Homo sapiens: one gene and its partners. Changing the gene in region 3 together with the main gene of any one other region gives a genetic interaction. Each region holds a gene or a part of one and is shown on either strand. Other genes may lie near its edges. The genes, in order: MCM4, ATR, TIPIN and ARIH1.

Region 1 (6,961 bases), on a different chromosome or scaffold from region 3:
TTACAGGTAAGAGTGTAGGTTTGCACCAGCACTTGAGCATGTCTGGCTTGCTTTCAATGCTGTGCTTTAGTGAGTCATTGGACTTGGTCACAGGTCCAGTTCTACCTCCAGTTGTCACTGCTTGTCTTTGAGACTGTGGGGTATATCCCTGCTTTATCTGCCACCTTTTTAACTGAGTACCATGGCCCAGCAGTATGAAATTGTTCAGTTCTTCCCAAACTTGAATGTTGGAGCTCATGGTTCGTGTGGTCACTCGCCTCTTGATACCTCAGTATCCTGGAGCTGTGTGTGTCTCAAGTCAGTACTGTTGGCATCATGAGAGAGCAGCCTCAGACAGGCTTGTATGGGTAAAGTTTTGAGTTATGCCATCAGCTCAGAGAAGTATTACTCACCAATGCTGGAGTTTTAAGTAATTTTTACTTAATTTCCCAAATGTATAGCCAAGGGTTAACATTTGTTTGTTACAGAGAAAAATGAGTCAGTGACTTGTTTCCATGTGTAGAAGCTGAGGTTCAGGGATGCATAGACAGCAGTAGCTCAGATGCCACGGTAAATCAGAACCCAGGACCCAGGTCTCCTTCTCTTGCTGCCACAAGAGTGCTCTTTGCACAGCACCATATGAGTGTGGCAGTCCTCCTTTTGATGCTGTAGAGTCACAATGGATTTTGGTTGGGGGCAAGGGAGTGTTGATGGCAGCACGGTTCTTCATTGATGGGCAAGGTGGCGACGGTCGCGGAGTGCCTGAATCTGCTCCTGAGCGGAGGGCCTGGGGCACACCACGCATCGGCTCTTGTCTTCAGTGAGGCAGTGCTCACCCTGTTTCTTCCCCAGTGTGAAGTCCCGCAGTTATCACTGGCAATCTTCCGTCGTAAAAGTACTTGAAGTCATGGAGAATTTGAAAGAATGCGTAGTTTTTAGTGAGTGACGTGCGCATTTCCAGTCCTGCTACCCTGAAACCTTTGATAAAGTATTTAGTCCAATATTTTTGTTTCCTCACCTACAAAGTGGAGTTAATGTGATGATACATGTGTGAGAGTGTTTGGGGCCAAGGGGCTGTGGAAAGTGCTGTGTAGATGTGAAATAAGTATCAATGCTGCTCTGTGAGATAAATCATTCCGGGCCACTTTAAACATAATCTTCCATCCCTAGCCTATATTGGAGTGAAGAATAGTGTGTATTCTAAGAATGTGTGTAAACTGGTTTGTTGTGTTAAACAAGAATTACACTGACCCACTGAATAAACAAGGACAGTGCTCTGTGCCATTGCGTTGAGATAGCTGTAACGGGGAAAGGCCAGGCTTTCTCCAAAAGCTGCAGGAATCAGCCTGGAGTTAAAGCCTTCTGGTTTGAAATCCAGAAAAGACGAACATCAGATCAGACCTCTGTATGTGAGGAGCCTGGCTTCCAGAAGAATGCATGATTTGCATGCTTTTGTCGGGGGTGGTGGGTAGGTTGGGGGGACCTAGTCTAGTTTTAATGACTGGAGGATTTTAGCATTTTGTTGCAGTCAAGTAAGTGCTAGGCAGATTCTGTACACTCAACTTAGGGAAGTAAAAATACTGCTTATTAAAAACAACCACGAACCCAGCATTGAGCTAGAAGCACAGCAGCTCCATTTCACCCTCAGGGTGACTGTGCCCGTGGGCATGCTCACGTAGCTACAGTTGCCCTGGAGCACTGCTGACTAGTGGGCCCAGGTGAACACGTCCTCGGGTCTATCATTTGCAGAAACCTGGGTTCTTTCTCTTTTGTTTTGTTTTGTTTTGTTTTGTTTCATTTTGTTTTGTTTTGTTTTTGAGACGGAGTTTTGCTCTCGTCACCCAGGCTGGAGTCCAATGGCACCATCTTGGCTCACCGCAACCTCCGCCTCCCAGGTTCAAGCCATTCTCCTGCCTCAGCCTCCCGAGTAGCTGGGATTACAGGCATGTGCCACCACGCCCGGCTAATTTTTGTATTTTTAGTAGAGACAGGGTTCTCCTTGTTGATTAGGGTGGTCTCGAACTCCCAACCTCAGGTGATCCGCCTGCCTCAGCCTCCCAAAGTGCTAGGATTACAGACATGAGCCACCTTGGTTCTTTCGAGCTTGTCCGTTTCCTGCTGCTATTTCCCTGCTTGCTCATAGCAAGCGGGAGCTTTGCAATGTGGGCCTGAGTCCTGGGCTTGGGAGGGTCATTTAAGAGACGGTGGAGCTCACCCTTTCCAGGGCCAGCCCGACGTGGTGCCTCGCTCTGAAGTGCACCTGTTGCCTACGCTGGTTGCTGAGCCACTCGGAGGAAGATATGGGAAGGTAAAAGTGCATCTCCTGGTTGTGCCCTCAGGCATCTATCGAGCTGTGCCTATTCGAGTCAATCCAAGAGTGAGTAATGTGAAGTCTGTCTACAAAACCCACATTGATGTCATTCATTATCGGAAAACGGATGCAAAACGTCTGCATGGCCTTGATGAAGAAGCAGAACAGAAACTTTTTTCAGAGAAACGTGTGGAATTGCTTAAGGAACTTTCCAGGAAACCAGACATTTATGAGAGGCTTGCTTCAGCCTTGGCTCCAAGCATTTATGAACATGAAGATATAAAGAAGGTAACAGTGGATTTTAAACTAGGGGTTGGGATTTACAATTCTTTGGGATCAAATAGTATAAACATCCACTCCGCCACTCGAGCCATCCGCCATAAAGGACAGAGTTGTGGCCTGTTAGAGCAAGTGCTGGCAACCTGACTTGCCATTGGTTGAGAAGAATCATAGCATTGTCTATCCTCATCTCTGGTCTAAACTTAGGTTTCTAAACAGAAGAGGCCACACAGTGTCAGAATAGGGACTTGCATGGCCACCATTCTGGTGTAATGATAGGTGCTGATGAACTGGTCAGTGATAACTTAAAGCATATCAAGCACTTTCACGAGCCTTTTTATACCTTCCTGTGATTTCTTAATTGTAGTTCTTTATAAGAGAGAAAAGTACCTCTAAAGTTTAAACTACATCTCAGTTAACTGTGCAGAAAATGAATGTTTAGACATGTCTCTGATTATTTAGGGAATTTTGCTTCAGCTCTTTGGCGGGACAAGGAAGGATTTTAGTCACACTGGAAGGGGCAAATTTCGGGCTGAGATCAACATCTTGCTGTGTGGCGACCCTGGTACCAGCAAGTCCCAGCTGCTGCAGTACGTGTACAACCTCGTCCCCAGGGGCCAGTACACGTCTGGGAAGGGCTCCAGTGCAGTTGGCCTCACTGCGTACGTAATGAAAGACCCTGAGACAAGGCAGCTGGTCCTGCAGACAGGTGCTCTTGTCCTGAGTGACAACGGCATCTGCTGTATCGATGAGTTCGACAAGATGAATGAAAGTACAAGATCGGTATTGCATGAAGTCATGGAACAGCAGACTCTGTCCATTGCAAAGGTGAGTCGCCTTCTCCACCGTGAACATGGACGTGTTTAAAATATGTGGACCCTTGAAAGACAGGGTCTGTGGAACTGTGCTGTGCTACCTTGGTTCTAACTTGGGGAGATTGATAAGTGCTTTCCACATCATATTTCAGCTAAATCTCAACATGTCTTCTACAGGGTGTCACGTTTTGTCTTTATTGCTGTACTAGCCTTGAATTTGTCCTAAAGCTCTTGCAAGGTGCCTGCTTCCTGAGAAAGATGTGGTTATAGCACACATTCATCTAAACTCAGTCCTTGGCATGAATCTGAGGACAGGGCTTATCCAGGTGAACTGCTGAAGTCAGTAAAGGCAACATGGCTCAGGCAATAGAAACTCAGTGGAGGGAATATGGGTTTAGTAGGTGGCCGGGCGAAGACGGTGCTTGTTAATTGCCAGCGTCAGGGAGAGGCTTCTAACTGCACTCTTTGCTCTGATAGGCTGGGATCATCTGTCAGCTCAATGCGCGCACCTCTGTCCTGGCAGCAGCAAATCCCATTGAGTCTCAGTGGAATCCTAAAAAAACAACCATTGAAAACATCCAGCTGCCTCATACTTTATTATCAAGGTATTAAAACAGATTTTTATTTTGTTCATTTGTAGAATATTCAGGGTGAGATTGAAAAGGAGCTACTAAGATTTCAGCAACTGCTAATGGAAACTCTTCACTCTTATCAAGATGTTTCAAATTTGGTTGGTCAAGAGTTTTCACGACAAGGATGATGTGTGTTCTCATTTGTTTTTTAAGCAGTTGGGATGTTTACCTCCCACGCCGTTTACACATGGCTGTCACTCACTACTCTTAGTCCTAAAGCCACTGCTGAGAGTCAACAGAGAACAATTCCGTACAGTAGATGAGGCTCTGAAAAGTTAGATTTATTAAAGTGCAATCACATAATCTTCACTCTTGGCCCCACTACAAATATTGGACATTTTTCATAAATGGATTTTAGGTTTTAATTACTTGCTTTTTTTTCTTTTTTTTTGACAGAAGTTTTTTTTCCCAAAAAAACAGTTGAATGTGTTTTCATTCAAATCTTTCCATTGTCAGCCAGGTACAGTGACTCACACCTGTAATTCCAGCACTTTGGGAGGCTGAGGTGGGTGGATCGCCTGAGCTCAGGAGTTTGAGGCCACCCTGGGCAACTTGATGAAACCCCATCTCTACTAAAATACAAAAAATTAGCCCGGCGTGGCGGCGCATGCCTGTAATCCCAGCTACTCGGGAGGCTGAGGAGGCACAAGAATTGCTTGAGCCTGGGGGAGTGGAGATTGCAGTGAGCTGAGATCATACCACTTCACTCTAGCTTGGGCTACAGAGTGAGACTCTGTCTCAAAAAAAAAAAAAAAAAAAAAACTTTCCATCGTCAAAATTATAGTAACGTTTCCCTAAGGGAAGACTTCCTTTGACTCAGCTGATTGGTCCCCAGCCGTTCCCTGGGCCGACCTAAGGACTAGGGACAGCACAGGGTGAGTGGGGTGAGTGGATGGACACGAAGGCCCTTTCCACACCAGGCAAAGATGCTTCTCCCTGATGGCGCTCACAGGGTGCACATTGACTGCACATCTGTGGTGCTCAAGCAGTCTTTAGTACGTCGTTTGTAGGTGTATTGGTGTCTCAACTAGGAAAACAGTTTTTTTGTTGTTGTTTTGGGTTTTTTTGTTTGTTTTTTTGAGACAGAGTCTCCCTCTGTCGGCCAGGCTGGAGTGCAGTGACGCGAACTTGGCTCACCGCAACCTTCGCCTTCCAGGTTCAAGCGATTCTCCTGCTTCAGCCTCCCAAGTAGCTGGGATTACAGGCAGGCACCACCACTCCTGGCTAATTGTTGCATTTTTAGTAGAGACAAGGTTTCACCGTGTTGGCCAGGCTGGTCTCAAACTACCAACCTCAGGTGATCCACCTGCCTCGGCCTCACAAGGTGCTGGAAAAACAGTATTTTTACTTTGTTTTCTTAGGTTTGATTTGATCTTCCTCTTGCTGGACCCTCAGGACGAAGCCTATGACAGGCGTCTGGCTCACCACCTGGTCGCACTGTACTACCAGAGCGAGGAGCAGGCAGAGGAGGAGCTCCTGGACATGGCGGTGCTAAAGGACTACATTGCCTACGCGCACAGCACCATCATGCCGCGGCTAAGTGAGGAAGCCAGCCAGGCTCTCATCGAGGTAACCCTGCTGAAAAAAGGCTTACTGTGCCTGTAGCCCACAGCATTAATGTAACTGACCAATCATCTCCTTTAAAATATTAATTATTTTGTTACGAATAACATACTGTTCTCTTCCTTGTTTTGAGACAGAGCCTGGCTCTCTTGCCCAGGCTGGAGTGCAGTGGCTTGATCTCGGCTTACTGCAGCCTGTGGCCTGTGCTTCTGGGTTCAAGCGATTCTCCTGCTTCAGCCTCCCTATTAGCTGGGATTACAGGTGCCCACAACCACTCCGGCTAATTTTTGTATTTTTAGTAGAGACAGAGTTTCACCGTGTTGGCCAGGCTGGTCTTGAAATCCTGACCTCAAGTGATGCGCCAGCCTCTGCCTCCCAAAGTGTTAGGATTGCAGGCGCAAGCCACCATGCTGGGCCTAAGAATAATAAACTTTTCTTTTTTTTTTTTTTGTGAGACGGAGTCTCGCTGTGTCCCCCAGGCTGGACTGCAGTGGCGCGATCTCGGCTCACTGCAAGCTCCACCTCCCGGATTCACGCCATTCTCCTGCCTCAGCCTCCTGAGTAGCTGGGATTACAGGCACCCACCACCACGCCTGGCTAATTTTTTGTATTTTTAGTAGAGACGGGGTTTCACTGTGTTAGGATGGTCTCGATCTCCTGACCTCGTGATCCGCCTGCCTCGGCCTCCCAAAGTGCTGGGATTACAGGCGTGAGCCACCGCGCCTAGCAATATACTATTTTTTATAACTGTTTATTACTTCCTCCCATATTGCAAAATTGATCTTTCCAAATGTTGCAAAAGGGGGAAATAGTTCATTTATGTAGGTAGTACACACACTTTATATGTTTAAGTACTTACAAGCATAGTGAATTTAAGATCAAAGACCTGGTTTCAAATAGAGGCAACACTACACAGTAATTTGGAAACTGAAAAAGTCATCCAGTTTCTGTAAGCTTCCTTTTGCTTGTAAAAAACAGAATGAGCTGTCTTTTAGGTTCACTTTTCAGCATCCTGGTACATGAGCTGAAGTGCATGATGGCACATTTAGGTTATTCAAGCATTGTGATATTAAGAAGGTTCCTGGTGCTTTGATGAGCTTTGCATCCTAACTGAGCTCCTAAAAATTCTAAGATGAAAGTTACAGACATTATGTAATTTTTTTGTGTGTCATAGTCTTGGGGGTTGTTAATGAAGAAATAAGACTGTGTCATCTGTATGTGAAATTGATACAACTTACCTTTGCAGCATTCTCCCAGCAATCCTTATGAGCCCCATTGTGCCCCATGTGAGCACTTTTCCCAGACAGGCCTGATTCTCCCTATGAGTGCTCACAGCCTTCTCCTCTCCCCACATGCCACATTCCTTCCCTCTGCCACGCCAT
Region 2 (7,516 bases), on a different chromosome or scaffold from region 3:
TGCCTCCTGGGTTCAAGAGATTCTTGTATCTCAGCCTCCCTAGTAGCTGGGACTACAGGCGTGAGCCACCATGCCTGGCTAATTTTTGTATTTTTAGAAGAGATGAGGTTTTGCCATGTTGGCCAGGCTGGTCTCAAGCTCCTGACCTCAAGAGATCCGCATGCCTTGGCCTCCCAAAGTGCTGGGATTACAGGCGTGAGCCACCGTGCCTGGCCTAATGTTTCTATTTCTTAAACTGAGAAGTTGGTATAAGAATTTTTGGTATATTGTTCTTCTTTTTAAAATATTTCTCAAATACTTCCTAATTTTATTAAATGAAGATAATGATATGTAAGGACACATTGCAAATGTTTTACAAAAAGAAAGGAAATGGGATATGTGGGGCAGGCTTTTATGTGTTACTTTTTATGTATCTAACCCCCTTCTGAACTATTAAAAATGTACCTGCTCTTTTAATTATTGAAAAAAATATAAATAAGTCTTAGAAGTCCTATATAGAGATGAGTTAAAACAAACCACACAAGGCCAGGCATGGTGGCTCACGCCTGTAATCCTAGCACTTTAGAAGGCTGGGGCAGGTGGATCACTTGAGGTCAGGAGTTCGAGACCAGCCTGGCTAACATGGTGAAACCCCGCCTCTACTAAAAATATAAGAATTAGCTGGGTATGGTGGTGCGCACCTGTAATCCTAGCTACTCAGGAGGCTGAGGCAGGAAAATTGCTTGAACCTGAAGACGGAGGTTGCAGCAAGCCGAGATTGCGCCACTGCACTCCAGCATGGGCGACAGAGTAAGACTCCGTCTCAAAAATAAATAAATAAATAAATAAATAAATAAATAAATAGATAGATAGATAGATAGATAGATAAATAAAACAAACCACACACACATTCTTGTGAGCACTTACAATAGCTATCTGAAATCCTACAGCTTAATGTTAGAAGATTAGCGGCAAATGTGGTCAACTTTAAACAGCCATCATCAGAATGGGAATAAATCCATGGAAGTGAGAGCATACCACATAAATCTTCCAGGATATGATCTTCAAATGAACTGTTTACTACAGAAGCACAAAATAAGTCATTAATTATAACTTTTCCTTAATCATATCTCTTTTAAATAAAAATAAAGACATTTGAAATACTATCATAATGATCATTGGATAAGCAGAAATTCTTAACACAGAGATCTATAAACGATGGTCTGAGGTCTGTGAACCCAAAGAAATTAAATGTGACTTTATAAAAACATGTTATCTATGCCTGTTTTAAAGAAGAATCACGGCATTCCTCAAACTCCCAAATTAAAAAACTTTGAAGTTATAAATAATTTCTATTGACTAAAGAATCAAAATATTATGCACATAAATTGGCAACTCAGAACTTCTATTATTGACAAATTTAATAGAACTGAAATCAGGAAAAAACTTCTGAGTATTCCAAACACGCACTTAGGCTTCAGGCAAAAAAGAAAGCATATTTCTATACTGATTATCTTTAAAGGTTATTCTGATCTGTTGCTAATTTGTACTCACCTTGCATATAAATCAAAGCATCATAAATTTTCACCACCTTATCAATGGTTGCCTCCAGGTCCAGTTTCTGAACAGATTCTAACAAACTTCTACAGCTCTTAAGCACTTTTGTGTAAAAATCCAATGACATCCAAGTTATCACTACAGAAGGTTTCTTCTTGGATTTATGTTGACAGTCCTTGAAAGTACGGCTGCAGTAAGTACATTTTGTTAAAAACATTGGAATTAAGATGAATTTTGTTATAGTCAAACATAAAATTGTAGTAAAGCCAAAAGAAATTGTGAGTACGAAATTTATCTATAACAATTTAAAGTAAACATGCAAATCAAGTAATATGTTATTACTATTTTAAGTTGAATCTATTTATGTCAGCTTAAATCACCCTTAGGATTTGGGAACCAAATGACTTTGGGAGCCTGAGGTGGGAGGATCACTTGAGCCCAGGAGTTTGAGACCAGCCGGGCCAATATAGGGAAACCCATCTCTACAAAAAAAATTTTTTCTAAATTAGGGTGTGGCGGCACATGCCTATAGTTCCAGCTACATGGGAGGCTCACTTGAGCCCCGGATAGAGATCAAGGCTGTAGTGAGCCATGATCATGCCACTGTGCACCAGCCTGGGAGACAAAGCGAGACCCTGTCTTCAACAGCCAAACACTGGGTTTTGAGTTGTACACAAATGTGTTCTGGTACTTTCTAATCATGTGTCCCCAGGAAAGTCAGTTTTGGCTTCAGACAAAAAAGAGCCTCAGTTTCTCTGAGTGTCAGTTTCTAATTTTTAAAATAGGCATAATAGCCTTTACCTTACAGGACTATTGTAAATATTAACTAAGATATATACAGTGCTTAGCACCGTACCTAGCATTTGACTCAATAGAAAATAAATTTATTAACTACTTCAGTGAAAAGTTTGTGTTCTAAGGTTACATGAGTCAAGTGAATAATGAGTAAACAGTAAATCCAAGTTCATTACAGGAAACCCAACCCCAAGAAACAAGAAGTTTGTTTTACCAGTTCATGTTTTGATGAGAACAATGAACAGTACACAGAGCAGTCAGTTGTAAGACAACAGCAATTCCTTCTAACATCTCAATAACAGGATTCTTTAGGCCACTGTATTCAAGGGAAATCTGAAGGGATTCAGCTTTCTGTTTCAGTGCACTCCATAATATGCTCTTTTGGTTCATGTCCACATGTTTAATTCTATAATTATGAATATAGTAGAGAGATATTCATATGCAATATAAATTTGGTTAAAACATGAAACATATTTAGAATAAAACATACTATGTAATATCAACTATTCAAAAAAATTTTTTTTTTTTGTGAGACAGAGTCTCACTCTGTCTCCCAGGCTGGAGTGCAGTGGCGCCATCTCGGCTCACTGCAAGCTCCGCCTCCCGGGTTCACGCCATTCTCCTGCCTCAGCCTCCCGAGTAGCTGGGACTACAGGCGCCAACCACCACGCTTGGCTAATTTTTTGTATTTTTAGTAGAGACAGGGTTTCACCGTGTTAGCCAGGATGATCTCGATCTTCTGACCTCGTGATCTGCCCGCCTCGGCCTCCCAAAGTGCTGGGATTACAGGCGTGAGCCACCGCGCCCAGCCTGAAATTTATACTAAGATTTAAAACAATTAAAACAATGTTCAGAAGTAACTGAAATATGGCAACTTAGCCACTTTATAAAAAATAGTTGGTTAATGTTTTAAAAATTGCTAATAGATGCACAGTCTCAAAGATTTTTCACATATTAAAAAGTTAAATTAGATAAGCATATAAAAACATGCAAAGTAACTATATTTAACCATGAAATGTTTTATACTACTAACCGTCTACAATAATTATAAAAATATTTTAAGCACTCCCTTGGCTACATTTAGAAAGATGTTCTTTGTGTATTTAAATCAAAGCACTTAACTAAAGCTGATTTTTAAAAGTGAACAAAGTTTTATTTAATGGCTAAATACAAACTGAATGAAGGTCATCATACTCCTCAGTCTGTTTTGGTGCTCTTTTAGAAGGGTTTAGAGACGAGCTGAGACGACGCCTTTTGGGTGATATTCCATCACTATTACTGCTGAGGTTTTCCTGTTGAGTTTGGCATTGAATCTCCTCAATGATTTCCATACTTTCCATTTTCAAAGCTGCATAAAGTGGGCCCAACAAGTACTGAGAAAATAAAAAATAATTTCCAGAAATATTCCTTAGAAAATATATTTATATTATTCATAGGCAGCAAGAATGTATTAGATGTTAGGTGTTTTCTAGTGAAACTACTTTTAGAGTCTCATAAAGCAAAATAAACATCTAAATTGATCTATATTATTTAAGTCTATATATAGACTATGGTTCTATAGTCTTAGAAGGTTTAAACAAATCCTTCTCTCTACATCCTGTTTTTCCTCTTACCAAAATGCTATAAATTTTAATTCCCTTATAAAAAATTCTGTAAGGGAATTACCAACTTTCTTCATGTAACTTTAATCCAGCAAGATTAATAAACTAAAATATTTAATCAAGTTACTGCATCTCTGATGATTTTATTGTATTACCTGACTCCCACAGTCCAAATAGAAAAAAGCGCATAATTTGGCATGATTAATCATTCATAGGTTTTCTAAAAGTGATTGATTATAACTTGTCAGACACATAATCTGATTGACCAAAGCTTCTGCAATTAAGTTGGTAACTGCCCCCTTTTAATTAATAATGCAACAAATACATTTACACTTCACAGATTCTACTTAGAAACATTCTACTCCATTGGCAGTTCATTACCAACTTAATGAACAAATCCTTCTGAAATCAAAGTAAAAGTCCATAATAGTGAGCCAGACTACACTATGAAAATCATTATGTTCCAAATATAAATTACTATTAAAGATATTCTATTTTCTTATTATTACATTTTGCACATATGTATACAATTAAATGATGAACAAAATACATACTTAACTAGTAACCTGAAAAATTACTTACCTCTGCATCTACCTCAATTCCAAGCACATCCAAAAGAGCTTTACAAATATTTCTCACATAGACCTTCCTGACTTGTAAAGCAGATTCATACCCAGCTGGCACAAATTTAAGGAAATACTGCAGTAAATGGCACAAAGCTGCTTTTAGCAAATCAGACTTAAGCCGCATGAGCACACCGTCTTCAAACATGACACAGAGTTTTTCCAGCAGCATATTTAAATAGACAGGTTCAATATTTCTATAAGCTTCTGCTTCAAAGGGAAATAGTGTCTTTATCAGCTTTGATAATGGCTCTTCATAGAGTTTCAATTGGTCAGTATCCATTTCTACAAGGTGTTTTAATAATTCCAAAAATGAGCTGAAAAAAGTGCTAGCTGGTTGTGCTGGTAGTCCTCCAAGCTGAAAAAGTTCTGTTAAAAAGCTAATTGCTAGGGATTTAATTTTTGGACTACCATACTCTAGCAGAACACAACCTATCTGCCAAAGTAAGAGTTCTTGCCTTCTAAAAAACACAATTGCAATAATACGAGTAAGAACCATTAATAAAGTGACTTCAATAAATTCTAAATTTTGCATACTCATCAACTGCAAAGGAGCTGATTGTAAATATCCCATGTGTTCATCTAATTGACTTAAAAATCGGCTCATGACCACTGGCCATTCCACAGCATGACCCATCACATTTCTTCTATGGAGGTAAACCAAGTCTTCAAAAAGTTGTAATAATTCTTTTGTGAGTACCCCAAAAATAGCAGGACTCTTGCTTTTAAAAAGAAATAATAATGAACAGATGACTTCACAGATTTTCTTGTGTAACAAATGACAGGAGGGAGTTGCTGCAATCCGCAGAAGTCTCGTTATGATCCAATTACTGAATTCTTTGAAATAAACAAAAAAGATATTAAATAAACAAGTATATCCGAAGTGCTAATTCATTTGCTAAATCCTTGACGATTGACTTTTAAAGAATAAACTTCACTAACAAGAGTGTAAAACATTCTCTTCACAATGGAAACATAATAGTTTAGAACACAGGCATACCCAGTTTTATTGCACGTTGCAGATACTGCATTTGTCACAAATTGAAGGTTGTGGTAACTCTGCATCAAGCAAGTGTATCAGTGCCATTTTTCCAATAGCATGTGGTCACTTCATGTCTCTGTATCACATTTTGGTAATTCTCAAAATATTTCAAACATTTTCATTATTATCGTATCTGTTATGGTGATCTGTGATCAGTGACGTTTGATGTTACTATTGTAATTGTTTGGAGCTGTCATGAACCACACCGATATAAGGTGGCAAACTTAATGGATAAATGTATGTGTTCTGACCCACCGACCAGCAGTTCCCCATCTCTCTCCCTCTCCTTGTGTCTCCCTATTCCCTGAGACACAGTATTGAAATTAGGTTAATTAATAACCCTTACAATGGCCTCTATGTGTTCAAATGAAAGGAAGAGTCACACATCTCTCACTTCAAATCAAAAGCTAGAAATGATTAAGCCTACTGAGGAAGGCATGTTGAAAGCCAAGACAAGTTGAAAGCTAGGCCTCTTTCACCAAACAACCAACTTGTTAAAACAAAGAAAAAGTTTTTGGAGGAAATTAAAAGTACTACTCCACTGAACGCACCATTGATGAGAAAGTGAAACAGCCTTATTGCTGGTATGGAGAAAGTTTTTGTACTCTGAATAGAAGATCAAATCGTTAAAAGATGAGGAAATTTCCAGTAGGAAAAAAAGAAGATCAAACCAGCCACAACATTCCCTTAAGCCAAAGCCTAATCCAGAGAAAGGCCCTCAACATCAAGGCAAGACACTCCACCAGCACAAATATTACAACTTGTTGAAGGATGATATAATCGTTAGCATTTTTTAGTAATAAAGTATTTTTAATTAGGGTACATACATTGTTTTTTAGACATAATGCTATTCCACACTTAAGGTACAACGTAAACATAACTTTTATATGCACTGGGAAACCAAAAAATTCATGTGACTTACTTTATTGCAATATTCACTTTATTGTAGTGGTCTGGAACTGAACCCACAATATTTCTGAGGTATGCCTGTAACAACTTTGGAGTCAGACAGGCAAGGTCCTAGCTTTCCACTTACTAGTTGTATAAACTTTTCATTTCTCTGAACCTCTGTAATTTCATGTATAAGGAGAATAATGCTATCTATGTTATGGGTTACTGTGAGGACCAAATAAGAAAATGCACATGAAATACTCAGCACAGTTCCAAAGTAAAATAAATGTTCAATAAAGGGTAGCTATTGTCATTCTTTCAACTAAAATTTGAGTGGTGACTCTGTCTCAGGTACACAAGAATAAATCAGTCATAGTCCTGTCCTCATGAATCTCACAGTACAGTTTCTTGAGCTTTTTGACTGCAACAAAGAAATAACATTTTATATCATGACCCAGTACATATACATGCATTTTATTTAAATATTTAAAACAAAAGGTTCATTAAATAGTACTTACTCTTATTACATACAATGTACTATAATATTTTCTTTTTTTTTTTCTTGAGACAGGTTCTCACTCTGTTACCCAGGCTGGAGTGCAACGGCATGGTCTTAGCTCACTGCAATCTCTGCCTCCCAGGCTAAAGCAATTAGTGTGCCTCAGCCTTCCAAGTAGCTTGTACCACAGGCATGTGCCACCATGTTCAGCTAATGTTTTTCTGTTTTGTTTTGGTTTGGTTTGGTTTGGTTTTGGTAGAGACAGGATTTTGCCATGTTGCCTAGGCTGGTCTCGAACTCCCAAAGTGCTGGGATTACAGGCGTGAGACATCGTGCCCAGCCTATGATATTTTCTAGTTTATTTCATCTTGTTTTAAATGCTGATAATTGCCTAATTTCATAACCCACTAGTGGGTTATGACCTGTAGTTTAAAAACTACTGTAGGAAAGAATATAGACAAACCAATGATTAGAGCACAGTTTAATAGCCTCTATGATAGATGAAATGCAGAACACTTAGTACTAAGAG
Region 3 (3,995 bases):
TCTTGACTCACTGCAGCCTTGAACTTCTAGTCTCAAGCAATCCTCCAGCATTGGGCTTCCAAAGTGCTGGGATTGCAGGTATGAGCCAGTGTACCTGGCCTAAATTTGCTGTTTTTAACACACATTGTGGGTTTGGAAACTATATAACCAAATTTGTTAAAACTATATTTAGAAAGAATTGCAAGTTGGTTTTGAATGAAGTAAGCAGGATTGCGTATATCTTTCTTAATTTCCCATTCAGTTTTTCCTTTCAAAATGGAAAAATAAGAATTATAGGCCCAGCACAGTGTCTCTTGCCTGTAATCCCAGCACTTTGGGAGGCTGAGGTGGGCAGATCACTTGAGCCTGGGAGTTCAAGACCAGCCTGGGCAACATAGTGAGTCCCCGTCTCTACAAAAAAAAAAAGAATTATAATAACTAGATACCATGTTGTAAACGAAGTTTCACCCAATATATTAACATTTTTAAGTGAAAATTATTTTGGCTACTTTTTTTTTCAGTTAAGATGAATTTACTTTTTCTTTTTGCTTTTTTTTTTTTTTTTTTTTTTTTTTGAGATGGAGTCTTGCTCTGTAGCTCAGGCTGGAGTGCAGTGGCGTGATCTTGGCTCACTGCAACCTCTGCCTCCCGGGTTCAAGCAGTTCCCCTGCTTCAGCCTCCTCAAGTAGCTAGGACTACAAGTGCGTGCCCCCATGCCTGGCTAATTTTTGTATTTTTAGTAGAGAAGGGATTTCACTGTGTTGGCCAGGGTGGTCTTGAACTCCTGACCTAGTGATCTGCCTGCCTCAGCCTCCCAAAGTCCTGGGATTACAGGTGTGAGCCACCATGCCCAGCTGAATTTACTTTTTCCTTTTTTTTTTTTTTTTTTTTTTGAGACGGAGTCTTGCTCTGTCACCCAGGCTGGAGTGCAATGGCGTGATCTCGGCTCACTGCAAGCCCCGCCTCCCGTGTCCATGCCATTCTCGTGCCTCAGCCTCCCGAGTAGCTGGGACTACAGGTGCCTGCCACCACGCCTGGCTAATTTTTTGTATTTTTAGTAGAGACAGGGTTTCACCGTATCAGCCAGGATGGTCTCGATCCCCTAACCTCGTGATCCACCCACCTCGGTCTCCTAAAGTGCTGGGATTACAGGTGTGAGCCACCGCACCTGGCCAATTTACTTTTTCTTTATAAATGGATGTTTTATTAGTACCATGTGAAACATTACATGAAGATAGCATTATTCTTGATGGCAGTGGCTTCTTTGCTGTCAATATCAAGTATACCTGGCAGTTGGTATTTAAAGCTCACCTCTGTTTATCATATACAACTTAAAATTTGTCCAAATGGAAATAAGTACTTTAAAGTTTCTTATGGATCACTCTGACATAAAACCTAAACGCACTTGGTTTTTATTAGACCTCTTTCTAGTAGTTTTCAGTTTTGTTTTTTTAGATGGGGCCTCACTGTATTGCCCAGGCTGGAGTGCAGTTGCTGATCTCGGCCCACTGCAACCTCCGCCTCCTAGGTTCAAGCGATTCTCCTGTCCCAGCCTCCCGAGTAGCTGGGATTACAGGCGTGCTCCACCATGTCCGGCTAATTTTTGTATTTTTTGTAGAGGCAGGGTTTCACCATATTGGCCAGACTGGTTTCAAACTCCTGACCTTGAGTGATCTGCCTGCCTCAGCCTCCCAAAGTGCTGAGATTACAGGCATGATCCACTGTGCCTGGCCAATAGTAGTTTGATTTTGAATAAGAACAGTTACATTTGACTATGATCCAAGAGTGTGAGTTGAATAACATTCAAAACCATTTTGCTTTTTTTTTGTTTTTTTTTGGTTATAGGATCTCACTTTGTCACCCAGGCTGGAGTGCAGTGGCACGATCATGGTTCGCCACCATAGCCAGCTAATTATTTTTTTTTTTATTTTATTTTTTTTGATGTTTTGTTGACATGGGGTCTCACTATGTGGCCCAGGCTGGTCCTGAACTCCTGAGCTCCAATGATCCTCCCACATTGTTGGGATCGGGCCTGGCCTCTCTTGCATTTAAAATGGATCTTAATTGTATAAAAATGGGCTTATTGGCTAGGCGTGGTAGCTCACGCCTGTAATCCCAGGACTTTGGGAGCCTGAGGCGGGTGGATCACCTGAGGTCAGGAGTTCGAGACCAGCCTGGCCAACATAGTGAAACCCTGTCTCTTCTAAAAATACCAAAATTAGCCGGGTGTAGTGGCGGGTACCTGTAATCCCAGCTACTCGGGAGGCTGAGGCAGGAGAATCACTTGAACCCGGTGGAGGTTGCAGTGAGCCCAGATCGTGCGATTGCACTCCAGCCAAAGTGATGGAGCGAGACTCCATCTCAAAAAAAAAAAAAAAGATATATTTAGAAGAAAGTGATCATAATTAACATTAAGTGATCTTAGACTTCATTTTACTAAACTGAGCTTTTGAAGAGGTTTGTACTCATGCGGTAAGATTGGATCAGGTACTTATAATGAATAATAATGGTATGATTTCTTTCAGATATGTTAATGAATACACCCAGGGCACACACGGTTGAAGAGGTTAATACTGATGAGGATCAAAAGGAGGAGTCAAATGGATTAAACGAAGACATTCTGGACAATCCATGTAATGATGCTATTGCCAATACTTTAAATGAAGAGGAAACACTGCTGGACCAGTCTTTTAAAAATGTGCAACAGCAACTTGATGCTACATCCAGAAATATTACTGAAGCTAGATAAGTTTCCATTAAGAGAAAATGTATCTGTTAAGTCATCGTCCTGCAAGCTTGGCGTTACTATGTATTTTTTCTTCTTGGAGTGAAAATCCTTAGATAGTAAAACTGTTATAGATTATTGTTTAAAATCTGATAATCTGGTATTTATTTATAATTATGCTTGTCACTTTAGTTAAATCTATTTGTTCTCTTTAGTGTTTGTTTTTATATAGGTATTTCTTCATAAAATGATTAGGAGGTAATAAGCAGTTTCTGCTGCTGGTCTGTCATTGAATGCCTTGTTTTCACTAAGTTGGGAGGTTTTGTTTCTGTTTTTTACTGCTCCTTGCAAAGCAGGGCTAATCCATGGACAGTGTGCCCAGAGTAGTCTAGTTGAAGTTTTTTGTTTTGTTTTGTTTTGTTTTTTTTGACACAGAGTCTCACTCTGTTGGCCAGGCTGGAGTGCAGTGGCACAGTCTTGGCTCACTGCAACCTCTGCCTCCTGGGCTCAAGCAATTCTCCTGCCTTAGCCTCCCGAGTAGCTGGGACTACAGGCGTGTGCCACCACGCTTGGCTAATTTTTGTACTTTTAGTAGAGATGAGGTTTCACCATGTTGGCCAGGCTGGTCTCAAACTCCTAACCTCAGGTAATCCGCCCCCCTCGGCCTCCCAAAGTGCTGGGATTACAGGTGTGAGCCACCGCGCCCAGCCTGGGTGAAGTTTTGAGATGTACATATATACTGAATATTAATGTCAATTTTTTAAAAGAAGTAAAAATTATCTTAAAAACTATCTACAGGCTTTATGGGAGGTTTTCATTGCTATATAGTTCTGCAGTTTACACTTTTGGTAAATACAAGATTTTTACATGTTTTCTAAGGAGTTACTTTAATAGTTAAAAGGTCACATGAAAGGCCGATACATTGCCTGGCCCTCATAGGTGCTAGGGTAGTTCAAAGAATGCTTTTTGGGAACTTACTGACTAGTTGGAGTGAAACTTGCAAAGTATCGTGGGGAACATAGCATCTCGGGAGGATTTACAGGAAAGACTTTGCTTTTGGTGGAGGAGATTCCAAGTATTGGGAAGCACATGTACAATAATGATACAGAAATAAGATTAAGGGGATAAGGCAGATTTTAGGAATGCTGATTTTGAGGTTAGATGTGTTAGGGCCAAATCGTGAGAACACCTGATTGGAGTTCTTCCTGCCAGGTAGAGGGGGTAGTTACAAATAAGAAAGGTTAGTGTTAGGAAAGGCTCTCCCACCCCACCCCCTCACCCCTACCCACAG
Region 4 (8,268 bases), 6.3 Mb from region 3:
CCTGTAGTGATCTCAGCTCACTACAACCTCTGCCTTCCTGGCTCAGTTGATCCTCCCACCTCAGCCTCCTGAGCAGCTGGGACTACAGGCGTGTACCACCACACCCGGCTAATTTTTGTATTTTTTGTTGAGATAGGGTTTTACCATGTTGCCCAGGCTGATCTCAAACTTCTGAGCTCAAGCGATCTGCCTGCCTCAGCACCCCAAAGTCCTGGGGTTACAGGCATAAACCACTGCACCCAACCTAGATTTCTTTGTGTCCTTAGCTTTCTGATGAATTAAACATATGTTTTATTTTCTAGCTCATCTGGCCTTTTGTTGTTGTTTGCTAGAGTGGGAGGTATATTCCTTGTGACTTTGTTCATATCACTAGTGAATTTCAGAAGTAGGAGTTTATTTTTTTAATAAAAAATTTTTTTAGGTCAGGCACAGTGTCTCATGCCTGTAATCCCAGCACTTTGGGAGGCCGAGGCAGGTGGATCACCTGAGATCAGGAGTTTGAGACCAGCCTGGCCAACATAGTGAAACCCCAACTCTACTAAAAATACTAAAATTAGCCAGGTGTGGTGGTGGGCGCCTGTAATCCCAGCTACTTGAGAGACTGAGTCAGGAGATTTGCTTGAACCTGGGAGGCGGAGGTTGCAGTGAGCCGAGATTGTGCCACTGCACTCCAGCCTGGGTGACAGAGCAAGACTCCCTCTCAAAAAAAAAAAAAAAAATTTTTTTTTAAACACGTCTCACTGCCACCCAGGCTTGAGTGCCATGACATGATCATAGCTCACTGCTGGCTTGACCTTCTGGGCTCAAGTGATCCTCTTGCCTCAGCCTCTTGAGTAGCTGGGACCACAGTCATGTGCCACCATGCCTGGCTTTTTTTTTTTTGTAGAGTTTGGGTCTCGCTATGTTGCCTGTGATCCTCCCACCTTGGTTTTCCAAAGTGCTGGGATTAAAGGCATGAGCCACCATGCCTGGTTAGGAATGGGAGTTTAAACAATGGTTTTATTTACATATTTCATTAGCTAGTATTTTTTTCTTTTTTGAGACAGAGTCTGGCTCTGTTGCCCAGGCTGGAGTGCAGTGGCACGATCTAGGCTCATTGCAACCTCTGCCTCGTGATTCTCGTGACTCAGCCTCCTGAGTAGCTGGGATTACAGGCGCCCGCCACCACACCCAGCTAATTTTTGTATTTTTAGTAGAGACAGGGTTTCACCATGTTGGCCAGGTTGGTCTCCAACTCCTGACCTCAGTTGATCCACCCGCCTCAGCCTCCCAAAGTGCTGGGATTACAGGTGTGAGCCATCGCTCCTGGCCTCATTAACTGTTTTCAAAAGTAAAAGTACATGGATAATACAAAGTTAAATTTTGTAGAATCATAAAGAAAAGCAACACCTTCCCATCTTAACTCCCCTAGTGCCTCTACTCCCTCCACAGAGACAAATATCTTACCAGTTGGTTGTGTTTTCTTTTCCAAACTGTATTTCTAAAATGTGTCAATATCTCTTCCTTTTATTTTTTATTTTTTGTAGAGACAGGGGTCTCACTGTGCTGCCTAGGCTGGTCTCAAACTCCTGGCCTCCTACCTCGACTTCTCATAGTTCTGGCGTGAGCTACTGCACCTGGCCTCCCCCTTATTATTTTTTTAAACATGAATGGAAGCATACTATATTTTCTACACTTTATTTGTTTTATGTAACTATTTTAACAACCTGAGGACTTTTACAGGCTGCATAATATGTCTTAATATGGATGTATCTTAGTTTATTTAAACAGTTACTGGTGATGGACATTTCCATGTTTCCAGTATTTTTTCTCACAAACAATGCAGTATTATGCCTTTGTCCACATTCACCATTGATTGCTATTGAGTATATCTGTAGCATCAAGAATAGGCATACTGAAAATCCTCCATGAAGTCCAGTGAAGCTTCATATTATTTTGAAGTGATATTTCCCAGTGTTGGCTGGACTCTCAAGCGTTTGTGGTATAGGTTTTGGGAGGACTGGACACTTCCAAAGAGAAATAAGATGTTACAGACTTGTCCAGCAGGTGGCATCAGAACAAAGCTGGCTATGGACCTTGTCAGTACAAATGATAAAACATTAAAAATGTAAAAACTCAACTGTAGCTCCTTGTTTATACATATATTGGGGGTGTTGAAAAGTTACCGATGCCTGATTCCTCTTCTATGTCCTCAGCCCCCACCATAAAAATAGATAAATGCCATTTTTTTTGTATGCCCAGCACAGCTATATGATTTGAATAATCTTGATAAGCAGGGTCACATTTGAGGAGATTTGCTAAGGGAAATGAAGATCCATCTGTGACACAAGAAACATGTTCTATGTGATTTCTGGGATTTTCCTGTGAACATACTTCTTGTTTGTTTGTTTTACAGTGGATCTCACTCTGTCACCCAGGCTGGAGTTCAGTGGTGCAATCATAGCTCACTGCAACCTTGAGCTCCTGGGCTCAGGAGAGCCTCTCTCCTCAGTCTCCCAAGTAGCTAGGACTACAGACACATGCCATCATGCCAGGCTCATTTTAAAATTTTTTGTAGAGACGGGTCTCACTATGTTGCTCAGGCTGGTATTGAACTCCTGGGCTCAAGCAATCCTCCTGCCTCAGCATCTCAAAGTGTTGGGATTACAGGTGTGAACCATAGTATCCAACCTATTATGTTTTTTTAAAAAGAGATTGTTCTAATTATGTATATAATTAAAGTACATTAGGTTTAGTGATTGCAATTTGAGAAACCAATGTCCTTTCTTATTGAAAAAGGCCCTGGTACAGAAAGTGTTCTATCTTCCTCACAAGATCTGAGGTCAAAGGAGAGATTTTGAAACATTATAGCAATGGCTTCTAGTTATTGAATAAAGAATGTCATTTGCTCCTCACAGGACCCCTTTCAGGGAGATTTCACATATTGGGAAACAGCCTCATGAGCTTTCTACAAACATCTTTGTCCTTAAGTCTTCCCATTTCAGTAATTGGCTGTACCACTCATCCAGCAGCTTTCAAAGTAAGAAACCTGGCAATCTTCCTTTAACATCCATTTCCCTTTCCCTCATTCCCCCATATCCAATCATGTGTATTGGAGGTTTTTCCACCTCTAAACTTGAGAACCCATTTACTTTTTCTCCATCTCCTTTGCCATCACACTAGTCCAAGTGAAGTGTTTCATCATCTCATTTGCAGCATCCTTTAGTTTACCCTAGATTATCAATTTTTGTCCCCCTCCCAATTCAGTCTCTACTCATGAGCTAACATGAGTTTATTAAGTGTTCATTCTGACCATGCCATTCCTTGCTCAAAATTCTCTAGTGCCTTCCCAATGCCCTTAAAATAAAATTCCTCATATGGCCTTTGTGGATCTGCACTCCTACCTCTTCTCCTATTGCAACCAACCCTGTTACCTTTTTCTCTTTTCACACTGGTCTTCATTCTGTGCTGCAAACTGGCTGAGATTCTTCCATCCTCAGGGCCTTTGCACAAGTTCTTCCTTTGCCTTAGAATTCTTTCCTGGCCTGCACATGTCTTCATCCCCTTTCCCTAAGCTAATGCCTTACCCTTTAGGTCTCATTTTAAACATCTCTTACCCAGGAAAAATTTCCCTGTCCAAACAAGTCTAGATTGGCTCCCCATTGTTTGTTCTAACTGTTCTATATTTCTCCTTCTTAGCATTTATCACAATTCTTGGTATGTTGTGCTTTTCACTTTCTTAGTCGCTATTATTGGAGTAGGTAATACATCCATATAGTACAAAATTCAAAATGTATTAAAGGTATAGAGTAAAAAGTCTTCTCTTCCCTGTCCCCCCGCTACCCAGTTCTCCTCTTTAGAACCACTTTTAGCATTTTGAATATCCTTCCAGAAATATTTTCTAAGTATACAAGCAATTATGTATATAATATTCCTCTTTATTTTTGCCTTTTTATTAATACAGATACTATATGCATTTTCTGCACTTTATCTGTTAATAATATATCTTGGCAATTATTCAATATTAATATGTAAATAGTTGCCTCTTTCTTTTTCATGCGCCATATAATATGGACTTATAATTTATTTAACCTCTATCTAGGTTGGTTTTAGGCATTGGTTATTACAAATAATGCTGCATTGAATACCTTTGTATGTAAAGTCATTTCCCACATCTATGCCTATAGAATAAATTACTAGAATTGAAATAATTCAGTTAAAGATTATGTGCATTTTTAATTTTGGTAGTTATTGCCAAACTGCTCTCAATGGAAGTTTTATGAATTCCCACTAGTGAATGCATTTGTCCTCACAATTATGTCAGTGAAATTTTTGTTCTTTGCCAATGCAAGAAATGGAAAGTATCTCTTGGAAACTAATTTGCATGTTTTTTTTCCTTGCACAGTTATATTTTCATATGTTAAAGAGCCATTTGTATTTCTTGGTGAATTGTTCATAAACTTTGCTTACTTATTATCTAATGTCTGACTAATTTGCTACACTCTAAATTCCCAATTCATACTTAAGTCTCGCCCTTGCAATTTAGATGTACAATCTGCCTCTTCAGTGGTTTCCACACCAAAAAATCCACAGGCTCCTGAATTTTATATGGGCCTAAGAGTCTTACTGAAAATTGGAAGTCTTAAGGTGTAGTCTATTTTATGCAGTGTGAGGCCTTTCATGCTCTGAAATGTACCACTCTTGACTGACTTTTTCTTCTTCACCCTGTCCGGCACTGTGCCCTTATTAGCCAGAGAAATGTTCCCCCTTTCTCCCAGGAAACGTTCTGACCTTACCCTGGTCCCTCAAGGACTCTCCTTCTCCCCCAAATTAACTTTCAAGGAGTTTCTCCAACCCAAAATGGCACCCTTCCTGAAAAGATTTCTAGTGGATACTGTTTTCTGTACCTCACTACGGATGTATTTTGCTGCTTGGCTCCCCGTCTCCATTTTGCTATGGCAAACATTTTTTTCCAGAAATATATCAGATAAAATGAACATGTGGTCCCTTTTGTTGATTTTTGTTGGGATCCATGGTATTGATTTCTTCTAGTTTAGATAATTCCACCGTGGCAAGCTTTTATTCCTAGCATAGCGCTCATGAGGAGAATGTTAGTCACTTGGTGTTATTAATGCTAAAATAGTAAACAAGAACACAAAATTTGCTAGATTAGAAGTGGATTTTTTTTCCAGGCTGGGCACAGTGGCTCATGCCTGTAATCCCAGCAGTTTGGGAGGCTGAGGCAGGCAGATTGCTTTGAGCTCACGAATTCGAGACCAGCCTGGGCAACATGGAGAAACCCCGTCTGTACTGGGGCTAATTTTACCAAAAAAACTAGCCAGGTGTGGTGGCACACACCTGTGGTCCCAGCTACTGGGGAGGCTGAGGTGGAAGGATGGCTTGAGCCTGGGAGGCAGAGGTTGCAGTGAGCCTAGTTAGTGCCATTGCACTCCAGCCTGGGTGACATGTCTCAAAAAAAAAAAAAAAAAAAAAAGGTAAGGAATGAATTAACATGAATGAAAAAGGCATGATCTGCAGTCAGTCACCCATGGTCAAAGATAGCAGATACCAATTCATTCTCAGAGCGAAACGAAATCAGCCCAATGCTTTTGGCAAACTGTGGTTGCCTCCCTGTCATCATCATCTGGGCTCACTGTGGCTCGCCCTTCTGGCCTTGCTTCTGACCTTGCCATCTCTGGGGAGGCTTCTTTGCAAGCCCAAGCTTGGGCTCCCCTTCTCAGAACCATGTGCATACTTGTCCTGGAACTGTTTTTTTTTTTTTTTTTTTTTTTTTTTTTTTTTTTTTGCCTGTGCCTCTTGGAGGGCAGGGGCCATCTGGCACAAACCTGCATCCCCGCAGTTGCTAAATTAATGAACAAACAAATACCAAGTCTTTCACAATGTAACTTGAGAGTGGAGGTAGTGGTAGTGGCAACTCCATCTGGGGGATGAGAGAAGGTGGAGGCTGAGTTTTGGGGATGGCTTGCAACAGAAGAGGAGAGATTATTAGCAGCTAAAGGAGTGGCCAGGGTGAACACCAAGCATTTTCCTGACTGGGGAGCTGTGGGTTTGTTTATGGCTGGGTAAGGGGTGAAACCAGTGAGCAGGAGAGATAGCTAGTACTGGACTGGAGTGAAAGGCATCTGTAGAGGCAGGAGACAGGATGGGGAGGTAGAGGAGTTGGCCTAGGACAGGACAGCACTTATTTGAAGACTGGTGGGCAGGAGGAAAGGAAGGAGAGGGATTGAGAAATGACCTGGAGGTCCTCAGTCAGCTGGGAGAAGACCTGGAAGAGGGGGATTGGCTGCTGTTGGGATGGAGAGGAGGGCCAGGGGAGGCAGTGACTCACACGGAGGGAGGCTCGGGGATGGGGACTTTGGCAGTGGGGGGTGGGAAAGACATACTCGCAGGGGATCGGAAGGCCCCGTGGCAACTTTGTGTAAGTCCTGGTTCAGTCAAGGAGAGGAATCCGAGGGAAATGCCTGATTGGACCCATGGCCCACTCTGAGAGAAAGGGGTACTGTGGGTGTGCAGGAGGAAGAGCAGCTGGGAAGTAGGAGTGCCTAGGACTGGATCCAACTGGAAAGGGGGCAGATATGCTCCCAGGATCAGGGTAGGGACCCTCTAGGAAGGGGGCGTTCTGAGAGGGAGGTTGTGGGGAGCACTGTATGGGGGTCCTTGGAGGTGATTTCTGGGAAGGGGAAGTCTGGGGCAGGGCTGTGAGGAGTCAGGAAAGAAACTGTGGAGTCCGTTCCTCACCCACCTCCTGAGCCCTGGGGTCTGAGGCCCCCAGGAAAGAGGGTTCAGTGGCACAGGAGGGTCCAGGGCAGGAGAGAGAAAGCAGCCTCTCAGGTCTTCTTGGAAAGGAACTCTGACCACCAGTGTGAATAGTCTTGCAGAAAGCTAAGCGGACACCAAGTGAAAGCTGGCCCCTCCCCTCTCCCAGAGTGGGAGGGGCCAGCGGTTGCATGGGCAGCTTTCCTTGTGATGCCACAGTCCTCTGGACACACTGCTGCCTTGCCACACCTCCTTTCCCTTTCATCTTTCTCATCAACCAATGGGCTTGGCAGCATTGAGGCCATGCCCCTATTCTGTGTTCTAGTGTGGCCCTGGTTATCCCTCCTCTGACTCAGTTGCACAGCTACCTGGCAGGTGACCGGAGGTGTTTAGCAGTCTTGCCTGGATTGCGCTGATGTGGCCCCAACCCCGCCTCCCTCCCCACACCACCATGTAGGAAGAAACTCAACAGAGCAAATTGGCTGCAGCCAAGAAAAAGGTAAAAACCACCAGGTCATAGCCCCTGACCCACCTGCAGACTTCCTCTGACGGCAGGACTACTGCCAGAGTCTGTGCCACTCCTGAGGCACACCGGGTTAGGCCCCCCTGGTGCCTCTGCACTCCCCCTACCAAAATATTGTTAGCCAGCGCTGTTCCCTCAGCAGCCCAGCCCCTGCCCTCAACAGTCACCCCAGGGTGACTACTGGGGCAGGTGACTCCTGGGGCTCCCTGCTCCAGACTAGGCCCTGACCTCCTGCCCCCTCCCAAGCCTGACCTCCCTGGGCTCTTTGGCCTGGCATCTCCAAGGACTAAGACAACCACTTCTGGTGGTTGCCACTCACCTGGGGATGTGAGTTTTGGCTGGCCAGGCTCCTGGGGACAGGGGGCCCAAGGGGCAGTAGAGGGTAATTGTTAAGATTGCTGGGTACTGGTTAAAAATTCTGGGTTTGAATCCTGCCTCTCTGTCTGCTGGGGATATGATTTAGGGCAAGTTACTTGAGCTCTTTGGGCCTCTCTTTTCATATCTGTATAATAGAGGTGGTATTGTTTGACTTCCATTTGTGAAGTTTAAATGAAATTTGTTGTTGTTTTTATGTGAATCCCTAGTACATAGCCTGCTGTAAACACACAGGACACCCAGGAAATGGTCATTGCTGTTTGATTTTCCTCGCCCCAGTCTCAAGGGGAAGCCAGGCCAATGAGAAAAGCCACTTGCCATCAGCCTATCCCTTTAGAAGTCACTGAAAGGGCCCCACGTGTGGTGTAAGAGAAGATCTTACTTGCCACCAGCTTGCTGGGTGACCACAGAAAAATCACTATTTCCCCTGAGCCTCAGTTTTCTCCTCTATAACATGATACTGGATAAGATCAGTGTCTTTCAAACTTGTTTTTCACCTGGAGTCACCTTAGCTCAACTGAACCCTTACTCAGAAGTCTGGTTTTTTTTTTAACAGAAGTGGAGGTCTGGAGCTCTACCACATTCATCGCCCATGTCCTGGGCCTGAGGAGAGG

What was found.
Region 1: changes in TIPIN (region 3) and MCM4 together harm fitness more than expected from each alone (negative genetic interaction), as found in Homo sapiens cells (one large-scale study listed by BioGRID).
Region 2: changes in TIPIN (region 3) and ATR are lethal when combined (synthetic lethality), as found in Homo sapiens cells (one large-scale study listed by BioGRID).
Region 4: changes in TIPIN (region 3) and ARIH1 together harm fitness more than expected from each alone (negative genetic interaction), as found in Homo sapiens cells (one large-scale study listed by BioGRID).

What each region holds. Positions count from the first base shown.
Region 1 is NC_000008.11:47,967,480-47,974,440, forward strand, and holds part of MCM4 (DNA replication licensing factor MCM4), read left to right. Parts: coding exon 1-6; intron 7-2,318; coding exon 2,319-2,578; intron 2,579-3,031; coding exon 3,032-3,397; intron 3,398-3,861; coding exon 3,862-3,989; intron 3,990-5,377; coding exon 5,378-5,585; intron 5,586-6,961. UniProt on the Homo sapiens protein: Acts as a component of the MCM2-7 complex (MCM complex) which is the replicative helicase essential for 'once per cell cycle' DNA replication initiation and elongation in eukaryotic cells.
Region 2 is NC_000003.12:142,557,718-142,565,233, forward strand, and holds part of ATR (serine/threonine-protein kinase ATR), read right to left. Parts: intron 5,393-7,516; coding exon 4,515-5,392; intron 3,705-4,514; coding exon 3,526-3,704; intron 2,738-3,525; coding exon 2,546-2,737; intron 1,725-2,545; coding exon 1,534-1,724; intron 1,060-1,533; coding exon 907-1,059; intron 1-906. UniProt on the Homo sapiens protein: Serine/threonine protein kinase which activates checkpoint signaling upon genotoxic stresses such as ionizing radiation (IR), ultraviolet light (UV), or DNA replication stalling, thereby acting as a DNA damage sensor.
Region 3 is NC_000015.10:66,335,691-66,339,685, reverse strand, and holds the end of TIPIN (TIMELESS-interacting protein), read left to right. Parts: intron 1-2,504; coding exon 2,505-2,728; 3' UTR 2,729-3,495; downstream 3,496-3,995.
Region 4 is NC_000015.10:72,598,012-72,606,279, forward strand, and holds the end of ARIH1 (E3 ubiquitin-protein ligase ARIH1), read left to right. Parts: 3' UTR 1-4,976; downstream 4,977-8,268. UniProt on the Homo sapiens protein: E3 ubiquitin-protein ligase, which catalyzes ubiquitination of target proteins together with ubiquitin-conjugating enzyme E2 UBE2L3.